2 separate regions of the Homo sapiens genome follow, and region 1 is linked to region 2. Evidence: fine-mapped expression QTL. A gene starts in region 2. The other region holds a variant in brackets. All regions are shown on one strand. Distances are from middle to middle.

Region 1 (12,253 bases), 580 kb before region 2:
CCTGCTCTGTTCTAATTTTTGACAATTGTGGATTATCAAGCCTTGTTGGTCTATTTTTTTATACTGTGTCTGGAAACATCATCATAGCTGTTGGCAGAGTAGCCCAGCTATCCCCACACTTGAGTGAGAATGCCTCTTCAGAACTCTTCCAAGCTAACCTCCTAAAAATGTGACACCCTCAAAGCATAGCTTTTACCATGCTATCCTTTCTCACCTCTCGTTTTTAAAAAATTCCAAATCTTTAATATTCACCATTATCCAAAAAAATAATGATCATGACAAAGGTCATGATGATAAAGATGATGATGGCCAATATTACGACGGCCAACCTCTACTACATGCTAGTCATGAGCAACTGTGAGCTACATGTATGTATGATCTGATTTCATTTTCAAAACAACCCTGTGAGGGGTGCTATTGCCTCTTTAACAGGTGAGAAATCTGAGTACTTTCAAAGTTCATGTAACTAATAAGTGACAGCAATAGGACTTGAACCCAGTCTGTAACCTATAAATGTCCATAATTCTTGTACTGATTCCTATTCTTCTAATGCCTTGACAAGGCAGCCAAAGCCCAATGCAACCTGATTTCCCATTACTCTCTGCTCTACTTACTGGCCCCAGCACACCTGCCTCCAAACCCTTGCTAATGCCCAGGAGGCCCTGTCCTGCCCTTCAGCCTCTCTAAACCTTAATCCATGCCTCAGAGCCCAGCTCAAGACTTACCACTTCCAGGGATAAGTGTCCACTTTACATGGATTATACATGCATGGATGAAGGGCTAGGGCTGTCAGATAATATAACAGAAAATACAAAACATCTGGCTCCTGGACACAGAAGTCCTGAATGCCAGTTAATCTGGGTGGGAGGAGGAACAGATGGGGGTAGCATTTAGGAAGCTGTATTATTTCAGGTGTGATGTAATAATGGCTAGAGTTAGGGTTTTAGCTCTGGGAATGACATGAAAGGTACAGGATCCAAGAAATATGAAGAAATAATTCACAGGCCTTAGGAGGGACTCAATATTGAGTGGAAATGAAAGGAGAAAGAAGAATTCTGAGTCCTCCAATTCAGATAGGTCAAACAAAGCAAGAGCAAAGCCTTCATCCTTACAGCATCCCTATAGGGGTGACAAGGTGGGGACAATGCAAGGAAAAGAGGCAAGGAGATTCTTGCAGTGGCCTAACAGTGGGGCCAGCTCTGCAGCCAGTCTTCTGACCCAGGACCACCTCTGAAGTGCACTTGAATCAAGCGCAACCCCAAAATGACCATCTGAGAAAGAGAGAGAAAGACAGATGAAACAGGATGGAGAACGAGGCTCAGTCCAGGTAACGCAGGTCTCAAAGCACCTAGCAAGGAGTTTGGACTGATCTCAAGAGCAACCAGATGCTGGGTCCCAAGTCTGTGGCTCGCACTGCCAAGCTCGAAGAGGCAAAGGTTAAAGAACTTGTCACACCAAAGTGGCTTAAATGTACACTGTTGAGTTTTCTGTACATAAAAATAATTAAAATAATACAATTTTTCCTTAAAAAAAGAGCACCAGATACCACGGAAGGGTTTTAAGCAAGGGGGTGATGCGATTTATTTATATTTTATAAAAGTCACTCCAGCTTCACCCTCATTCCTTCTGCCAGGTCCTTCTCTTCCTCCTTCCTCTTTTCCTTTCATGGCCCAGGATCCAATTCCTTCACATTCCAGGACAGCAGAGTGTGAGCATGCCCAAGCCATGCCCCCTGAAACCCCGGCTGTAGTGCAATGTAGTCACACAGAAGATGCCCAATAAACACAGGTTTAAAAATGAATAGATACAAAATGGAATCTGGACACATTTTTGTTTTACATGTAATTTCCAACAACAAGGTTCTCACAGCCAAAGATGTGGTTAGGAAACATCCTTGTTGCTGCTAGAGTTCGAAAAATATCCAAGTTGTATTTTCCCTTCCCGCCCCGCCCCCCCCCCCCACCCCCCTCCCACCCTCCAAGTTTCTCCAGAGTTTTCAGCTGGGTTTTTTTTTTTTTTTCTGCTGTCTCATTACTGAGCTCCTCTTTCTCCTCCCCATGAACTTTTGTCCTGCCATTCTTTCCCTTTCAATTAGAACTGTCTTTATCCCAAGTCTCTCTTTGGTATTTCATCAGTCTTCACATCCTCCCTTTTTGGTCTGTTCCAGGAACAAACACAGTCTTTTTTCTTCAGACACTGTCTGGGAGAGCTGTGCCCAACTCTCTAATTTCCCCCCACTGCCGTCCCATAGTCCTCCCATCAACCCTACTCCCTGGCTTGTAATGCAGTTTATGTTTTGTCTTAAAAGTAGTCTTTTGTTTCTTTACAGGCCAAGATCACATTTAACAAGGTACATTTTACTATGACTCTGGATATGATAATGTGGTGATGCCAGCTTTCCAGTGCTGCTCCACTGGGGATGCCCTGCCGAGCACTCTGCTCTCCATGTATCTAAGCCTGCACACTTTCTAAACCAACCGCTGGGGAAAATCACCAGGAGTCCTAGATTCCTGGGCTGCTAGTGAGCAATCAAGGAGGCTCTCCTGCATTTGGCTATGGATGAACCCCCACCCCTCGCCCCACCCAGAGAGGCCAGACGACTGAATGCTAAATCCTACAGATTAGCTAGAAAAATGCTCAGGAAATCAGAGTTGAAGAGTTGTTCAACCAGTAATATTTAGCCATTTGGTGTATTATGAGCATCATGAGTCATTCACTTTTTTTATTATTACTGTTTTCTGGTACAAAAGGCTGCATTATTTTCCTCAAAACTCTTTTCATGGTCTCATCAATAGTGCCTACCAGTGTTTTTTTAAATCTTTGATATTTAGGGTATAACACAATAGATGTTAAATCTACAGCTCGCTATTTAGGTGTCAAATGCTTGCTTATAGAATGAAATGTGGAAAAATAGCTCATTTGCAAAACTAGAGAGCTCCATGATAGGGTTCTATAAACAAATATTTTATTGTTTTAGAAACTAAGTTTATGATAGATACATTTTTATTAAACTCTATAAGTGCAGTCTCCTTGCACGGGTAGTCTCCATCTCCTCCCGTGGTTGTTTAACAAGGTTAAAAAGAGCATTTCATGATCTTCTTCCTTAAATAAGATACCCATGACTGCTTAACTAAATTTGCCAACACCTAAACACTATTTTGTATTAGTTAAAATATGTTATAAAAAGTAAATAAAACATAGTTAACAATTATAAAAATTTCCATCTGTCACATTTGGTTGAATTTACTTACATAATTTGCAAGTATTGTTTTCATTCTATTTATTTCTTGCTACTCATATTTTGTTTTCAAAAAATAGAACTCAATTTGACAATGCTTTTCTACTTTTCCATGTAACTGATAATTCTGTTAAACAATATTTATTGAATGTTGAATATATATATATATTCTGAGACCAAAAAAAAAAAAAACAGTTGATTGAGACATTCATTCTCAAGTAGACTGCCCTGTGGTCTACTTGAGAACAAGGACCAAATGAACCGATACAGTCCTGGTAAAAGGCAGAGAATGAGGACGGGAAACTGAACTGAAGAGGCTGTAGGAACTATTTGTGAGGAGATGAGTCTTGGGCTTTCAGCAGTGGAATGGGTGGGGTTGGGGCTAGTTAAACAGCAGAGGGAATGTCACTGGAAGAGTAGGGAAGAGCAAGACCACAGGCACAGGGACAGGAATGTGATTTGACCATAGTGAAGAGTGAAGAGACCAACGGGCTGAGTCCAAGGGCTCCCATGTGCAAGTGAGAGGAGGTTAGGCTGACTGTACACAGCTTTAAGTGCCAGATTATTCTCCGGGAAGACAGAAGTCCTAAAGTTTCCCCCAAAATATAAACGGTCATTCTGGCAATTATATGGTGGCTTATGAAAGCACACACTGTGTGACCTTAACTCATTTTCAGGTGCTCACTTACACTCATGAGAGTAAGGCTGCTTCAAACATGAAAAAGCGGGGCAAGGATATATGCTCGTATCCAAATATTTTTCCACTGTTTTGCATTACCTGAGAAGTGTGGGACAAGAAAAAGCAAGTAGCTCAGAGATCAACAGCTCTGTTTTTGACTGAGCTGCCGATTTCAAAGCGGATGTTCTGCAAGCAGCTCTCGGTAAGGAAGCTGAGAAAGCACAGCTGCTTGGAGAGCTTAAGTGGTTTAGCTTAATTCCTCTGTAAACTGTATTTTAAATGACTATGAAACCACATTTCTGTGACTGGTATTGTTTAAAGAGATGGAAGCCCAGCTAAAATGCTTTGGTTTTCTTTCATAAATATTCAGATTTATTCTAAGACTTTTCCTTCACAGTCTCTGAGAATCAGCCACTTGCAAGCAATGAAGACTGGGCTGCCCAATGTGTGTCCTGAGACCTCTGTTTGTCACAAGCATTTAATTTTCTTGGAGCTATAGTAGACTGTAGTTTTTCAGGTTGCTTGATAATGGGGCTTTCTATAAATAAAAGAAGCAAGAGCAAATGTACTCCACCCTGATTTCCTCAAAGACAAATTCTCCCACCCCAGTAAATATAAGCATACAGCTTAAAGGTCTGTTTTTTGAATAACAAATAAAGCAACTAAGTCTCAATCTTTTAATGAAAAAAAAATTAAGGCTAATTCTAGGAATAAATGGAAGTGAAAGATAAGTCCTTCACCGAGATCAAGGACTCACTGTGAGCACATGGTGGAAAATACGTAAAGGTGGTGTTTTAAAGACCCTCAGAAAAGTTTGATTAAAAAGCAAGAGCCACAGATGTATAAAAAAAGGAAAAGGCATCAATAAGAATTAAGCCTCTCACTCTGTGACAAGTGATTGAGACCCTTTACATTCAATATCTCATTTACTTTTTACGAATATCATATGCAGTGAATTCTGTTTCCATACTCCTAGATGCAGAAACCGTAGCTCAAGGGGATTAAGTAACTTGCCCAAGGTCACAGTTATAAGTGGTGAAATAAGAATGCAAACCCAGGTCTCTTTGGCTCACAACAGTCCATGCTATATTCATTACACCACAACAAGGAGAAGGCTTCCAGAAATAATAGAAACTTCAAGAAATATATTTTACATATAATTGAAAAGGGCTACTGACTGAACATGTCTATCAGAAAACTTGAAACTGTTCTCTCTGTCTTTCCCAGAAAAAATATAGTTCATGCAATAATCTGCAGTGCATCCTCACTGGGTCCTTACCGTTGGGAAGCCCTGTTGCTAAGAAGCATGTCCCCAAGAAGCATCCAAGCCAATTGGAGAGCTATAACACAGAGAGATAAAAAGATAGCTTATAAAGAACAGTATATCATTAATATTGAAATGAATGACTATAAAGACTACAAAGTGTTCTAGTTAAGATGAGAGAGAGCTACTTTTATATTGGGCTGATCAGTGGAGAGATCAAAGCAAAGGTGAGAGTGGGACTTAATCTTGAAGGATGGGCAAAATTTTAATCTGCTCACAGTGTTGACAGGATAATGAAATGCCATCTATGAAAAAAAAAAAAGCCCAGACACAATGGGGCGTTAGTAGAAGTCCAGTCCCTATCCCTACCCGAAGAAAGACAAACCCCCTGGCGAACATCTCATGCAATAAAATGGAGGATAAACCCTTCAGCATAATCAGGGACCCCACGTGAGTTTGAGACATAGGTCAGGAAAGAAGAAGGGCAATATTAGCATGAGTCTTAGAATCTCTAGTTGCTAAACTTAGAGGAAAAATGACAGTGGCCTTTTTAAGAAAAAGGGGTGCAGAAAATATGAGTCTGCAGCTGAGTAGGTCTACAACTCCAAGTATAGAACCTTGTCAGCACTCGAGTTTTGTATTCCTGGGAGCTATCCAGGGTACTGACCTATTCCATTCCGATGTCACTGACCCAGTGGACCAAGGCTTGCCTTAGTGTTTCTGCACACGCAACATGGGAACCTCTTTACTTCATCCACTCTGAAACTACTGCTATTTATGACCTCAATTACTTTCCAAGCCAAAATGCACCTTGTCTGTTGCCTGTCATGGTTTATAATTCTAGGCCATCAATTTGGCTTCCAATTGGCATTCCAACAGGTAAAGAAAACAGTGGAGGCATTGTAAGTGAAAACAACACTTTAAATAAGGGTCAGAAACAATAAATTGACCCACTTGCTTAAACTAGAGAACTTACACAGGGAAACTGTAGAAATGAACCTGGAAATGCAGGCTGAAATTAGCTTGTGAAAAGTACTGATTTCAGTGATAAGGCATTTTGACTTTTTGCATAGGCAACTTCAGCATTCTGAAACTTTGAACAGAGATGTGACAAAAGGAATGTTGGGAAAATCAATATAGAAATATCATGCCAGTGGGTCAGAGAGTAAACAATCAAGTGGCAGGCAGATAGTCCAAAGAAGGAGCTAAAAGTTTTTAGAACATACACTTTAACTGACAATTCTTTTCAGAGATATTGGATGTCAAGGAAAAAGTTTTCCAAGAATTCAAGATCACATTCCCTTCTGCTATTTACAGAAAGCTTATTATTGGGATGTCTGTATATATATATCTTTGTGTGTATGTGTGCATGTGTATATGTGTATATATATATATACATACACACATATGTATACATACATATGTATTTTTACATATATATGTAAAATCTCCCCAATACTAACCAACATGCAAATCCTAAGAGAATGTTCTGTGATGTCCTGCATCTGCCATTGGCTGAAAATGTGTCTCTTCATCTCCCAGTCTCCAGTCTCCTCCCATTTTGTTATAAATAATCTGACCAATTTCTCAATGCTGAGTATCTGTCACTTCTCTTTTGCAGAATTAGCTAGGCAAAGCATATCACTTATGGCTTACTAGGGTGCATCTCCTTCTGTCCATCAGCCCATCCAGCAGTTGCTCTGGGAGTCAGCTGCCTCCATCTTACACAGATGAGCAGGGAAAGAGGAACTGAGGATCAAGGGCCTGAGGTCTGGCTAGGGTCCAGGTCCTTGGTAACAGTACTCTGGAAGTAATGTCATGTGGATTCTGTGATGTGATGCCCTTGCACCATAATGCAGTTGCCAGATTTAGGGCAGTCTAAACTTCTCCATATACCCTAAAATAAAGGGCTAACCAAGCCCACTTATCAGCTGCCTAGT[ACCTATG/G]CCTCCAGAAAAATAAGGCAAAACTGGACTAGAAATCTTTTGATCTAGCCATAAAATGTTGCCAAACTGTCAACACATTCTCAGGATACTGCTGCTCCTCTCCACCCACCTGTCTCTAGGCTCTCTTTGGGAGTTGCTTTCTGCTCTAAGCCAAGTTATCTCACAGCAGCATCCACTGCTTTCTAGCATTCAACTAAGTACACCCTACCAATGATGCACATTCTCATTCTTTGGAGTCAAACAGAGATTCAAATTCTGCTTCTACTAATTATTGGTTGTACCCTCACACAGCTCCACAACCTCTGTAAGCCTCAGTTTCCTTACCTATCAAAGAGGAATGATTGAACTTTCCCCACAGAGTTGTTATAAGGATAAATTTAAATAAAGGATCCACTTAGCAAGGCCTGGAAAATGGAAGCATTCAATAAACTATGAATTGTGGTGCTAATAAAATGATATCATTTCTGTTCTTTGCAGAATATTCACATGACAGTTGGTTTTCCCACAAGCTGAAACATTGCAAACATTAAGTCTCCTGTCTGCCTCTTTGTGTGTGGGTCTATCTTTTAATCCAGCTCCACTTATTTTCTTCACTTTTACTTCTTCTGGGTTCCAGTCCTTGGCATGGATTACTGTCCAGCTAGAACTAGCTGTGACTAGCCTTGCTGCTCCCTGTTGGAGGTAGAAAAGGATGCTTCAGAAAATACAAGGTGCCACACTCTTAAAATGAACACTTCCCTAAATAAGTTGGAAGCATTTGGGTAAAATGGCACAAAACACTTTGGAGAAGCACAGTTTGATTTCAGTGTGCAAAAGATGTAAAAACTAGGAGAAGGTAAATATGTTCTTATTTCCCACCTTCAATATACGGTACTTACTACTAAAATACTAACTATACTAAATTGCCTCACACTTCACGTTTCTCCTTAGTGAGGGTAAAGATAGCAAAAAATACTTGCTACCAAGATTTGGCCATGGAGTACTGTAATATTTTGCACTCCAGATGAGGCTGCACCACTAGGCTATCTCATGCCCATTAACAATTGCACAAGGCTCAACTAAATTAATGATGTTCCTGAGTCAGCCTGGAAACAGCCGGTGCTTTTCTAAAAACAAAAACACTGGACCAACTAGAAAGATAGCTTTCATACTGTTCTCCATGGAATAAGATGGGGGTAAAGTTTTCACACATGAATTAAACTAAACTGAAATAAGCTGGGCCATTGTTTTAATAAATTGAGGGAATGTGGCTGGCAGTAATTAGAATGGCCTGAATAAAGAACACGTTGAACTCCCTACGCTGGGGGGAAAGCACTTGGAATATTTCATTAGGAGGAGGAGACAAGTGGATTTAAAACATATCATGTTTTTAGACGACTACGTTTCCCATGCATATGAGGCACAGTATAAATAATACTATAAAAAAATGCCATGTTCTTAAAATGCAATGGTTTCCCCAATATATAACATGAATGTAAACAAGATGTCTGTCAAGCATAGCAATAACATATTGCTTAACACAGCAAGCTTATAATATGCACCTATTATTCTTGCTTCTCTTAATGAAAGAATCTGAGGACACTGCATAAATTCTTCAACACATGTTTCACTTCTTCAGCTGCCTTGTGCTGTAGAACATCATGCTAACAAGAAGTGATGCTAACAAGAAGCTAAAACCAGTGTAGCAAAGGGGGCATTTAAATATATATAAACATAATGGCATTCACAAAGAAAGGAGCTATTGGAGGCAACTAAATGGATCCCTAGACAGACATATTTTAGTTTAATATTCCATGTATTTTTCTACATGCTAACTATTTCAGTTCTGCTCAATAGCAGGAAAAAACACGCCACTGGAGAACAAGAAGTCAGCATGCAATTATCTCCTGGGCTCATATACCAAAAACAATTATTTTTTGGGAAAGGAAAAAGACAGCCTCTTGAATTTCACAAACTTTCTTTGGTCACTTTAGAGCCGCCCTTAAATACCAATATTTGCAGACAGCAGCTAAAGAAACAAAGATTGCACTGCTTATACTAAACAACCCATCTGGCAGCTCATGTGCATTCAGAAAACCTGGATCATTTTATGCACTGGCCCACTAAAGTTGGAGAATCAGTTTCAGATCTTACTCTCTTAAACATTTGTTCAGCATCACCAGGGAAATCAGTTCTTGTTGTTGATTGAGGCCAAACCTAAAAAGCAGTGATTTCTGTTATGTATTCAGAATGAAGAAATGGCTGGTCTTTTAGCCTAAATTATCCAGGTGTTTGGCCAACCCTTAAGCAGATGGCAGCCCTCATCTCACCATACTAGGCTTCATTCATCTGTTGACATCCTTTAGATTCCACAGCCTTCATCAATAAGCACTGTCAGTAAGCAATGCTTTTGCAGAGAATTGAACATTTTGAAAATGGCATTTTTGGTCAATTAAAGCAAGTTTCACATTAAAAGGAGAATTTGGGATCCTAAAAAGGCAATATATTGAAAATAGTTCAAGAGCCACACTTGGGTTGGAGAGGAGGGGGATAAGTACAAGCTATTTTTAAAACAGAAAAGAAAAATAACCTGTTGAATTTACAGATTATTGGAAAAGATATTTGGTGTACACCCTGCTTCAGTCTGAAGAATACAGTGTAGCTCTCACTCATTTGTGATTATTCTTAAAAAGTAAAGGTAGCAAACAGATGCAATGATACATTCTACTACACATGCAGAGAACTCTGTCCCTTTTACTACAGCCTGTACTATGCCTCAGGCTCCAGGAAACCAGTCTGATCTTGGCCCAGATCTCACAGGCAGTCCAAGTTGGTCTGAACAGGTTCCAAAAGAACTGTGCTCCAACCTAACTGGGCACTAGTCAATGACTGTAGAGCATCATTTAAGCTGAAAGGGATAGTTATCTAGGCCTAAAATCAGCTGGAAACATACAGCTGCCATGTCAGCAGTCTGCCTTTGCCGGAGGCTCTGGCACACTTAGTTGGGATCCTTTGTTATTTCCATCCAAGCTGACATGATTGCTTAAAAAGGAGGATGCCATGTTTGTTTGTTTTGCCACACTTTATTTTTTCTTCCTCCTCTATATCCAAGAAACAACCAAATAAGAAATTAAAGGACCTTTTAATATTTTCTTCTTATTCCATTTCAATTGGAGAAAATCTTTCATTAAATACACTCAACTTATTTAGAAGGAACACAGTCTAAAATATTTGGTATTGTGCAACTCATTCCTTATATGTTATTTAGAATGAAAATCTCATGAAACATACATGGTATGATTCTTCTTAATAAAACTTTTTTATTCCATTTGTGCTAGGATTTTTTTGAGAAAGAGAGGATGGATGGCAAAGATTATATACCATACAACTTATTTTCCAAGTAAACCAGGGCATCAAGAAAAGCCCAAGTCTTACAGGATCAAACCCTCGTATTTTCCCTAACTGATATTATTCAAAATGAGTTTTAATGGTGAGAGGATAACTTCCATGGGGCAACCATTTTCCACATGGATTTCCAACTCCAAATCTCCTTAGCAATGACCTCAGCTTGACTCCAAATTTAACTATACACATCTAACCTCAAGTGCAGCTTCTCCAGCAAACCCCAGATAGTCCTTATTTTTCTTTCTAAAGTAATGTGTATATTGTATCCAGGCCATGATGGTGGTGATTATTATATTAATAAAGCTACTGTTCCCTGGAGATGTGGCTTTGTGGTTTCCAAAGAGCCTTCTACCCTAGCCAAGGAGGAGGCAAAAACTCTTGTATGGGTTGTTTTGCAATGGTTTGTGGCAAAGAATAGCAGAATGTCACAAGAAGGAAGTAAGAATTAAAGGGGAAGGGAAATTTGAAGAGAATACAGCTAGGATTCCTTTCCAGTGGCATGCTGAGCACAGGCTATGGAGCAGTGTTGAAAATGCAGTAGGATGGACCTCACTATCCATGGAGCCTCGGACGCCCTCTACAGACAAGCTCCCCAAGCTGTGGCCGGAAAAGGCAGCAGAAATACACATGCAGACCCTTTCTGGGTCATCGTCAGGGCAAACTCATGTGTCCCATGGAACAGATACCTCCTTGCATACAAAATACAGGCGAGCACCTACATGATAATAAGCACATTATTCACCACTATTTCTGCAAGCTGCTCTAAAATCAGAGGCTTTGGGGAATAAGAAGGCAAAAGAGATACATACAGAGGTAGAATAGAAGTCAGATAACAATGGTAGAAGTTCCTGGAGAATATTCATAGAAAAGAATTAAATATTCAAAACTTACTTTAAGATCAGAAAAAAATCTAGTGATGTAATTTTTCTTCCCCTCCGTGCTTTAAATATCCTAACATGCTAGAAACATTGAATGAAAGTGGTGGTTTCTAACACACTCCACATGTAGCATTATCCTTACCTGTGATTTTAAATTAGTTCAGCTCACAACGTGCCTGAAGGAGTGGTTCACTCTCTCCACCAACTGCTGTTCTCCATCTCCATTTTTCAAGGAGTCATTGACTCAAGCTAATATATAAAAAATGTCCAGGATGATTCTGACTTGGTGGAACCAACACATCAGACCTGGCCATCTGGAGTGGAATGTGCCTGGGATTCAATCTCAAGGGTGCCCAGTATGGGGAAACGCTGACCTCTGACTTGAACATCATTTCAGCCCAAGAGTGACCAACAGAAGATTCAGATTTCATGGCCCATGGAGGCATCCCGGCACCAGTTTGTTTGTGGTTGTTTTTTAAAGCCCCTCTGGTGATTCTGACATATAAGCAGGGTCAGAAATCCTTATGCAGAGCAAGATTACTATGCTTGGAAGCTCTGTCTCCAGATGTAACATGGTCCCTTCCCCATTGCTTTGACATTTTACAATTCTACAGGGCTTCCTTCATTCACTTAATAAATATCAATTGAGTATCTACAATTTGTAAGGCACTGTCCTAGGTGGTGGGGGTAAGCAAAGTCTCAAAACAAGGTCTGAGACTTGTGGATTTCACATTTTTGAAATATTAAAAACAATATTTTACAAGTACTTGGAAAAAAAATCAAAAAGCCTACCTTTACTTGGTGACAAAACAAAAGCATTTTAAATGCCAGATTGAGTTTTCAATAAAGTATTATTTTTAAAAA
Region 2 (10,549 bases):
GCATTTTTTCTTCCTTAAGTGTTTGGAATAATTCACTTATGAAGCTACCTGGGACTAAAGATTTCTTTAAGGGGGATTTTAAAGTATAGATTACATTTATTTAAAGAATATAGAAATATTACAATTAAATGTTTCTGCTTGTGTATGCTTTGATAAATTTAGCAATTCATTCTTTTCATTTAAATTTGCAGATTTAGTGGAATAAAGTAGTTCATAATATCCTTTTGTTACATATTTAGGATCTGCGGTAATATCCTCTTTATTTCTCACATTTAGAATTTGTTTTCTTTCTCATTTTCTTTCTGTCAGTCTTACCACAGTTTTATATCTTTCATTAGTCTTTTCAATAATCAACTTTTGAATGTTTTGTCCTAAGTTTTTATTGTAGTAAATTTCACATAGTATAAAATTCATCATTTAACCATTCAATGACATACAATTCAATGGCATTAAGTATGTTCACAATATTGTTCAACCATCACCATGATCTTGCGCCAGAATATTTTTCACCATCTCAGAAGGAAACCTATGTGCATTAAGTAGTTATTCCCCATCCTCCTCTCCCCTGCAGTTCCTGACAACTACTAATCTGCTTTCTGTCTTTATGGATTTGCCTTTTCTGGCTATTTCATGTAAATGGAATCCTATAATATGCTGCCTTTTGTGTTTGGCTTCTTTCACTTAGCATAATGATTTCAAGGTGCATCTATGTTGTGGCATGTATTAGGACTTTATTCTTTTTTTATAACTGAATGACACTTCATACAATGGATAGTCTCTCTTCAAGTTTGTTTTTTATTTCATTGATTGCTGATTTTATCTTCATTTCCATCCTTCTCCTTTCTTTGGATTTTTAAGCTTTTTGAGATGTGTGCTTAGACAATTGAAGTGAAGTGACATAGTTCTGTTAGCTTTCCCTTTTCGTACTTTCAGTTTCTGTTTTTAGGTGCACGTCAGTTTTGGTTTGCCCATATCTAGACATACAAACTTAGGGCTCCTACACTTCCTAATTGGATGACTTTGTATGAATGGGGATAATCGTATTGATCCTATCTCCTTGTCCAGGGTCTTGTGAGAGAATGTAAGGTAAAAGCATTTTGTAAACTAACTTCCAGACTTGGATAGTACCTTGTACTTTGCACTGCCATTGCTTTATATCTGCATAGTGCTTTCACAGGTTTTTAAAAATTTAATACAGCAAACCCACAGGAATTATCTCCATTTTACAGATGTTATTTCTGCTACTATAGAATTTTCAGGAAGTGACCATGAATTTAGTATTTAAAGCCCAGGGTTTTTGGGTTTTTTTTTCTTCCAGCTTTACTATAGCTGCCTCATGCAGAATGGTATTATTGGCATTCTTAGAACATTGGAATTTCACACTTTCAGAAACTTGAGAACATTGCAACAACTGCCAACAGGGCTCAGCATCCTCTGCAGATGAACAACACCAAGTGGTATAGTTACCCAATCAATCCTTTTGCACTTCTACAAAATTAAGCTTGGCAAACTTGGCTCTGGCTTTCTACCAATTCATTGACAGTTTTTACTGACTACTCCGTGAATTAGGCTTTTTGTGGGAAAATAAAAGAATGGGTTGATGTGATTGTTACCAAATATATTTAGGAAGAAGTATTTGAACATGTGCAAATAAATACTTAGCACATGAGGATCAAGGGAGGAAAGGAAAGGGATTCTAATAGTCAAGGTGAGATCTGAGTTTTTAAAGAAGTTTGCTTTTTAAATGTTTGGTTATACATTTCTGGTGATAAAAAAATTCTAAGTTTAAAACACCTTCATAACTTCTCATAACATTTAAAATCTTCACATAGCATGGACTCATACTCTTGTCTGCACATTTTAACATGTGTGAAATAGGAAATTATTGTATAATTAATAGTTTCTTAGAATTGTGTTGTAGATTAATTATAGTTTTTCTTTTTTAGTAGTACATAAAATAAAAGAATAATAGATAGTTATGTATTTAACACTGATGGCATTACAGTAAATAAAATATGGAACATTAAAGTATTCCAGAGGATTCTGTAATAACTTTTAAACATTCATTCATTCATTCATGTATTCAACAATATTTATTGAGCACCTAGATTTTGTTAGGTGCTGTACCAGGCGTTAGAGCTATAACAACAAGCAAGGCATTTTTATACAGGCTTCTGGTCTAGTGAGAAAAACAGTACCGTGATAAAGTATTAACAATACAGAGTGGCAGGAATAATAAAGAAGCAGCATGGTGCAATGAGACATATGAGAATGGTATCCAAGATTTAGACATCAGGAAAAACTAGTAGAAATAAATTGCAAACAGGTGCCTGAAGGAGCAGGTAGGATTTGATCATGTTAAGAATGGGGACTAGTATTCATACCCTCGTGTAATTCCTTCACCTTGAGAGAACAGAATGAATACAACATGGAAAAAATGATATGTCACTTTGAAAATTAGGTTACAAAGAGATGGTGACTTCCATCTGGCTTGTTAAAATGAGATCACAGTCCTGGCCAATGCCTGGGCTACGACCTTGGGAAAGACCCTGAGGCAGAGGCACCAGGTAAGTTGTAGTCATACTCCTGGCCCACAGAAAGTGAGAGGTGATAAGTGTTTGTTGTTATAAGCTGACACATTTCAGGCTTGTTTGTTACATGATGGTAGATAACTAATACATCTGTAGGGAAGTGGGGTGGACGTAGGTATGAGAGGGATTGCAAATAGGCATGAAGAAATTTGGAGGCAAAGGATATATTTATTACCTTGATGCCTGTGATGTTTTCATGGGTGAATATATATGCCAAAACTTATTGATTTATATATAATGACATATATTGAATTATAAACACATATAATTATATTTATATATTATAAATGTGTGCAGTTTATTGTATATAAATTATATCTCAATAAAGACGTTTGTATTTTAAAATGGGGAATAAAAAGCTTATGGAAAGACAGTGTTTCAGGCAAAAGAGCAAATGAAAACAAAAGCCCAGAGCAAGAGCTCCAGAAAAAGCAGACCATTTCAAAGTGTGCATTGACATGGGAAACCTTTGCTCTTGGATTTGAAAGAGATAAGTAGGTTAAGGGAAGGAAGGAGGACAAGATTGGTTGTGAAAAGAGGTAAAAGAGAACAAAGAGAACAAATAGTCAGTGACTTCAAACAAATACCATGGATTTTTGTGCAAGAAAGACCACTTGGGTTCTTTAAGGCCCATAGGACAACTGGGTCAGAAAAGGAGAGAGTGGCATCTCTAGTCTACTCCCAAACCATCTTTCAATCCCTGCTCCTCCTGCCTCCTTTATCCCCAACCCCTTGCCATTCATTTGTACTTTCCTTCCCTTTACAAATATTTGAGCATTTACTATGTGCCAGAAACTGTTCTAGGAGTTAGAGAGAAGGTAGTTAGCAAGTTAAGGTCTGTGACCTCTAAAAGTTTACATGCTAGTAGGGGAAGGCAGGTGGCATTAAGTAGGAAGATGATTTCCTATGGAGTGCTGTGAAGACAGTGGTGATAGAGTCCTTAACACCAGGTATGGCACAGCCTCAATCAGTCAGTTCAGTCCCAGCTGAACAAAACACTATTTGGGAGAAGAATCCTAGAGACCCTACTGTGCCAGGAAATAATACCTTGGTTGCTAGATCATGGTAAAGTGAGGGAGGATTCCAGGGAAGAGAGAATGGTCAGTATTGTGGAGGACCTCTTGGAGGGTCTGAGGAAGTGGTTATTTAACAACCACTGTAGAAATATGTCATTATTCTAATAACCAGTAATTCTGTACTGGTGCTAACCATTTGATATCAGCACTGAGGTCTTAGTAACTGGTGCAGAGAGAGGGTTCAGGAGAAGAGGGTGTGGAGGAAGTCTACTCTAGATGGTAATATTGGGAAAGGCCTCTCAGAAGAAGTGACATTTAAGCTATGACCTGAATGAAGAGAAAGAGAAATGCAAGGGGTAGTTGGGAAGTTAAGTCAGGGGGATGGGAAGAGGATTCTAGCCAAAGAATAGCAAAGACAATGATGGTGAAGTGCAATAAACTTGGTGTGTGTACCGAATGGTACAAAAGCTAATGTTGCTGCAACGTTATGCTGAGTGAATTATAAGAAATTAGGTCAGATGATAAGCACAGCCCAGATCTTGTGGGGCCTTTCAGGCCACAATAAGAAAATAAAATGAGAAGCCACAAGAGGGAGGATTTTAAGCATGGAAATGATATAATCTGATTTACATTTTTAAAGGATTACGTGGGCCTTGGTAAGAAGAATGGATTTGTGGGGAGGGTGATTAGGGAGAGAACAATGGAGAATCTGTTCTAGCCTGGAGATGATAGCAGCCTGAACCAGAGTAATGGCAGTGGAAATGGGGAAAATTGGGTTGATTCAAGATTATTTGAAAGTTGTAGTGGTTTCAAAGAGCTATCTATACATTCTTTGATATGTGGGCTAGGCATTTTTGCACTGCTATAAACACCTGAGGCTGGGTAATTTATATAAAAAAAGTTTTAATTGGTTCATGGTTCTGTAGGCTGTACAGGAAGCATGGTGTCAACATCTGCTCAGGTTCTGGTGAGGACCTCAGGAAGCTTAAAATCATGGGGGAAGGTGATGGGCATCACTAGCATGTCACATGGCAAGAGAGGGAGTGGGGGTGGGGGGAGGTGCTATAGTCTTTTAAACAACCAAATCTCACGTGAACTCAGAGCAAGAGAACTCACTCATTACCATGAGGATGGCACCAAGACAATTCAGAGGGATCTGCCACCATGACCCAACACCTCCTACCCTGTCCCACCTCCACCATTGGGGATCACATTTCAGCATGAGATTTGGAGGGGACAAACATCCAAACCATATCAATATGCCTCAAGGCATATGAAGGGGAGCCTCAAAAGGTGAAGTTTAATTCTTCTCACCTTGAATGTAAACTGGAGTTAGCAGTTTGCATCTAACAAACAGAATATGACAGAAGTTAGGGGATGTCATTTCAGAAGTTAGGTTAATAAAAGATTGTGGCATCCATTTTGGAGGCATGCTATCTCACTCTTTCAGATTGCTCATTCTAGTGAAAGTCAGCTACCTTGTTCTGTTGTAGTTCTGTAGAGAGGCCCACGTATCAAGGGACTGAAGTATCAAGGGACTGAAGTCTCTAAAGAGCTGTGTGAGTAATCTTGGAGGCTGATCTCACCTCCTTCACCCACTCCAGTTGAGCCTTCAGATAAGATGGCAATTCACACTGACAGCTCAGCTGCTAACTCATGAGAGACCTTGAGCCAGAGGTATCTAGCTGTGCCATGCCTGAATTCCTGACCCACAGAAATGATGAGATAATAAATGTTTGTTGTTTTTAATGGTGAGACTTTAGTATAATTTGTTATGCAGCATACGATAACTAATACAAAATAGAGCCTATAGGACTGACTGATCTGTTTGGTGCAAGAGGGTGTGAGGAAAAGAGATGGATGAAAGAAGATATGTAGATTTTGGACTTGAGCAACTGGATGGTAGTGATGCCATTTATTGAAGTGTGAGTTTGGGCAGGGGGGATTAAGAGTTTTCCTTTGGACACATTTTGAAAAGACTGTTAAACACCCCAGTGGGCATGTCAACCAGGTAGCCTGCTGGGCCCTGCCCAAATTCCTTATGCACTGTTTATGAGCATAAGAAAATGATTGTTTGGTTTAGCAGCTAACCTTGTGAAATATCTCCAATCTTCCATTCTCACCTTAACCCATTCTAATATGGTTTGTGTTCTTTTGACTCGTGTAGAATTTGTTCTTATTAAACCACCTATTGTATCCATGTTATCTAATTCAGTAGTTACTTCTCTGCCATAAGCATACTCAACTCATAGCCACATTGGACACAGATCATCATTCCCCCTCTTTTCGAATACTCTTCTCTTTTGGATTCATTGGTTCTACTTCTTAGGTAGATTCTTCTGCTCCACCTGGTGTTAACCAGGGTGGCTTAGCCAGTGGTATTCAGTTGGTGGCCAGGCTGTGGTGGCTGGGCTTGTCTAATAGCCCACTTCATTCATTTCTGCTTCCTTGGTGCCGATGGTTAAGAGGTTGGCTTCAGCTGACCACTTTCCCTCTCCATATGTTCATGGCCTTTCATGTGAATGCTCCAGTGGAGTGGTCAGGTTTTTTACATAGTAGCTCAAGGCTTAAGAGCAAGTGTTCAGAAGGAGCAGAGAGAGAGGGCAGTAGTTACAATGTGAGGCCAAAGAAGCTTCCCCCCAGAAAGCTAAAGGTGATAAGTAAAGCATGTTGGTATTGGCTGGCAATATTCCACAAGAGATGAAAGGACAGATATTGCAGAAGAGAGAAGGTATAACTGGGACCAAAAGCCTTGAGAAGGAAAGAGACATGGAGCAAATCATTCACAGTAACAGCAGACAGCAGAGAAGAGAGACATGGTTGTACAGAGGCACCTCCTTTGGGTCTTTACTCAAATGCCCCATTATCAGTGAGAACTTCTCTGACTGCTATTCTTCAGCAGAGGGTATTCCTTATCCCCTTTCTTGCTTTATGTGTTTTCTCCATAACATATGTGCATATCCATAACACACACATGCATCACCTAGAGCATTATATATGCCACAGTGACATGTTTTGCTGATTTCTCAATTGACTCCCCCCATTGGAATGAACGTAAGCTTGAGGAAGACGTTTTGTCCTGTTCTGTAGCATCTAGAACAGCGCCTGGCACATAGTAGGTACTCAATAAATGCCAGCTGCATGAGGAAATGAATGAGCTGTGTGGGGGATGTACTTGAGTGAACTCTAAAGTCAGAGTGGTGTTGAGAGAAAAATGCTTGAAATCCAGATGTTGGAAGGTGACACAGAGTAGTAGCCTGGTGAGAACAGTTAGATCTTAGGGGTTCCTACTACAGCCCTCCCTTCCGCACCTTTTTGGCTGTCACCATGATCAAGCTACTGAATCTCTCTGAGACGCAAGGACCGGGATGGCACAAAGTGAGTGCTCACCAAAGCTTGACTGTCCTTTCCCATGGCAATTTACTTCAGCTTGTTTGATTTCCCCTCCCCGACTGGACTAGGCACCTATTCTCTGTCTTCTCTCTTTACAGTTGGAAGGAGCAAAATGGGACTTTTGGCTGAAAGTGCTGAGCTCCTGCGGTGGGGGCTGACCGCAAGCCACGCCTTCTGTGCACCTGGTCGGCCCAGCTAGCTGCCGACCCGGCGGGGAGGGGCGGGGCGGGCCAATCGGCGCTGCCCCAGCAGGGCTGCGGCTGCAGGCAGGCAGAGCCTCCTAGCCCGTCGGTGTCTGCGCCCATCGATCCCTTTGTCTATCCCCGACCATGGCGAAGCTGATTGCGCTCACCCTCTTGGGGATGGGACTGGCACTCTTCAGGAACCACCAGTCTTCTTACCAGTAAGTTGGGTTGTGGTGAGGGCTGCAGCCTTCGTCCTCCTCACTCCCTGCCAGCTCCACGAGCCCCCAGAAAGTTGGGTCCAGGCTGTTAACAGAACATTTACAAGCAGGTGCTAGATGCACACTCTGCGGGGGTTTCATAAATGTTTGTCCAGCCGTCATGTGTCACTTGAAAACAAACTCTTGCTCATGGCCTGAGACATGGGATAAGGAGGCAATTGCCAGGGGTGTGAGTGCCCAGGTTGTCAGCATACACGAATTAATTTTTCATGAAGATTTGTGTGCCCTGGCTACAGATTCACTTCTCAACCTGGAAAGAAACAAACTAACCTGGCTGGGGGTTCTCCTGATATTTTGTGTATTAGAGAAAGGAGCCCCTGTCGCTTCTGCGCCTTGACTGCCTGGCCATGGCAAACCTTCCAGGCTTGAAGATTCTCAAATTGAGGCTACTGAGGGCCACAGCAAAACTGCGTGTGGACCCGAGCAGGTGGAGCTAACGTGTGCTGTGATGGTTCGCTTCAGTGGGGGCAGGCGGGGAAGAGGGAACCCTGGAGCCAGCATCTGATGTCCTGGGGTTTAGCTCTGCCCCATGAGTATGCGATTTGGGCAAATCACTTTACATCTCTAACCTTAGCTGCTTCAGTAAACTGGAAATAGTAATACACACTGCCTGCGACAGAGTAGCTATTCAATAAATGTTAGTTCCCTGCTTCCCTTTAAAGTATTTAATAAAGGGTTAAGTGCTATACAAGGGGGGTGGGGATATTTTAAGAATGTATCAAAAGTTTCATAACTTTTAACAGGAGTTCAAAGTCTACAGATCATCCTAGTCTCTAAGGCTTAGTCAACAATGCCTTATTTACTTTAAAGTAAAACCTAATAAAAATTAAATATAAAAAAATTATATGAGCTTATGGACTAATTAGAAGCTTACATTCAGAATGGGTTTTTACTATTTATTGTGGATGTTTTTCTAATTTTTTTAAGTTACAGAGTGCAGAAAAAAAGTAAGAAGCAGTTGGTATTCTTGGCTTTTAAATCATGTAAAAATTACAGTTTGTGAGTTTTTATTAATCACAGTGCTGGTGGCTGCCAAAGGAGATTATAGGTATAGATAAAAATATATAGATAAAGGATGGGTTGCTGAGCCTCCTGGAGTGACCCAGACAGAGGAAGGAAGGGAAATTTTACCCACTGTTGGAAACCCCTAAAACCTAGCTACTCAACTGGGTCTGGGGACCAGATGCCTGAGCATCACCTAGGGGCTCCCTGTACAGGCAGAATCTCAAGCCCTACCCCACACTATTGAATCAGAACCAGCGTCATGGAACAAACTCCCTGGGGGATTAGAGATCATGAATCTGCCCCAGGGAGAGAAGGCAAGAGATGATATCATGAGGCCTGCATCAGGAGCAAGCCAAATCCCCAGGATAGATGCATCCTTTTTTCTTCAGACTTGGAGTGTATGTGTGTGCGGCTCACAGGAAGCTATATATGCCTGGGCTGGAGGGAACTTAAGGAAGCACACAAGGGATGCCTCAAGAGATTTCTGAGTTTCCCAGGTGGGAGCAGTACAGAGAAAAGAACTGAGAGAGTTCCCCTAGACCACGAGTCTCCCACCCACGAGTCTCCCACCTTTGTAGTCGGCTGTATGTGCCGCACAAGTCCAGGGAATGCCTTGGATGATGGTAGAAACAGCTCCCCTCCCCTACCCCAACTTGGGCTATGGAATGTTGCAGCATCTGTATGGCAACTTCCTTGTCCCTACATTGCTAATTGCAATACGTGAGTCCACTGAGTTTCCCTTCTCAGAAGGAAACCACAAAGCTAACGTTGGGCCTCTCGATGCATTTCTGCCATTCCATGCTTACTGTAGGCAACACACAGTTGTGGGAAGAGAGTAGTTGTGGATTCCTGATGACCTGGGTTAGATATCATTTCTGCAACTTTCAAGTTATTTTACCACTTTATTCCAGAAAAGTTCCAGCCAGTTTCTCCACCCGAAAATTAGGGGATAATAATACATATTACAGCATATATATATATATATACACACACACACACACACACATACATATATTTATATTTATATAAAACATATAAATAAAACTAAGTATATATATATATATAAAAATCAGGCATATAGCAGATGTCCTGTAAACGTTAGCTTTTATAGCTGTCATATGTGATCTCAAAAATATAGAGTGATACTTGAATATGTATTATAATCATACTTCATTGAAAGTCTGAGATAAGGACAAATAATCCTCCAACCCTCCAGTCTCCCCTATGAATGCAACCAACACCATCTTCTCAGTCTGATGTACTTGCCTAGTATCTCCACAAAACACTTCAGTGGACATCTGCAGAGTACCTTCTCTTTGCAAACGTTGTGTTTCTGCTGGAGGTTATAGGAATGAATAGGTTGCAGTATTCACTCACCAATTTTAAAGTCTACTGGGAGCAAAAGAACAAAAACTGACAGCTGTGAAACTGACAACTATGACAACTATGGTAAGAAAGTTGACAGATGTATATGTGAAGGTTCCTGAGGGTAAACTAAGGAGTTATTAATCCCAATGCAGAAGACTGGAGAAGCTACAAAGCATCATGAGTAGGGGTCTTTCCAGTGGGTAATGGGCTAAAGAGCATTCTAGGTGAAGGGAAAAGTGTGAGCAAATAAAAAGAGGTATGAAAGAAATACAGGGAAGAGTCCTTAGTATCATGACACTTGATTTCAAATCCCAACTCTACCCTCTTAAATAAGCAACCACATGCAATTTACTCAGCCTCTCAGTGCCTCCATTTCCTTACCTACAAAACAGGGTAAATATTCATCTTTTTCTCAAAGGTGGCTAAAAAGATTAAATGAGGAAGTATGTGTGAGAGCCCTTATTGGAGCTTGGCACATAGTAGGCCATGAAAAGCAATTTGAATGAATGAGGCGTGTGTAGTAGCAGAAAATAGACTGATTAGAGTGAATTTGGCCCCAAGAAGAGTTTGAGAATCGATACGGATTTCTTAATGCCTAGGCAAAGATCTCTGCTTTTTTCTGCGAGCAGCCAGCATGTATTTTCACCGAATACTTCTGCCTTGGTTTGGATGTTCGTCCTCTCCAAACCTCGTATTTGATCTCTAATGTTGGA

What was found. PIP is the estimated chance that this variant, and not a neighbour inherited with it, causes the effect.
Region 1: its variant is the best candidate, but not a certain one, in a credible set for the expression of PON1 in hypothalamus (GTEx, PIP 0.64).

The regions. Positions count from the first base shown.
Region 1 is chr7:95,898,952-95,911,204 of GRCh38, reverse strand. All of the region lies in intron 6 of DYNC1I1 (dynein cytoplasmic 1 intermediate chain 1), which reads right to left. Among named protein-coding and RNA genes, the nearest start is that of DYNC1I1, 130 kb to the right of the region's middle. RefSeq lists a silencer at 5,741-5,941 and an enhancer at 8,431-9,022. The variant ACCTATG/G (reference allele first, on the strand shown) is at 7,122.
Region 2 is chr7:95,321,256-95,331,804 of GRCh38, reverse strand. It overlaps PON1 (paraoxonase 1), which reads left to right and starts at 7,273. Exons shown (of 9, transcript NM_000446.7): 1 at 7,273-7,403. The coding sequence starts at 7,330. RefSeq lists a silencer at 7,150-7,329.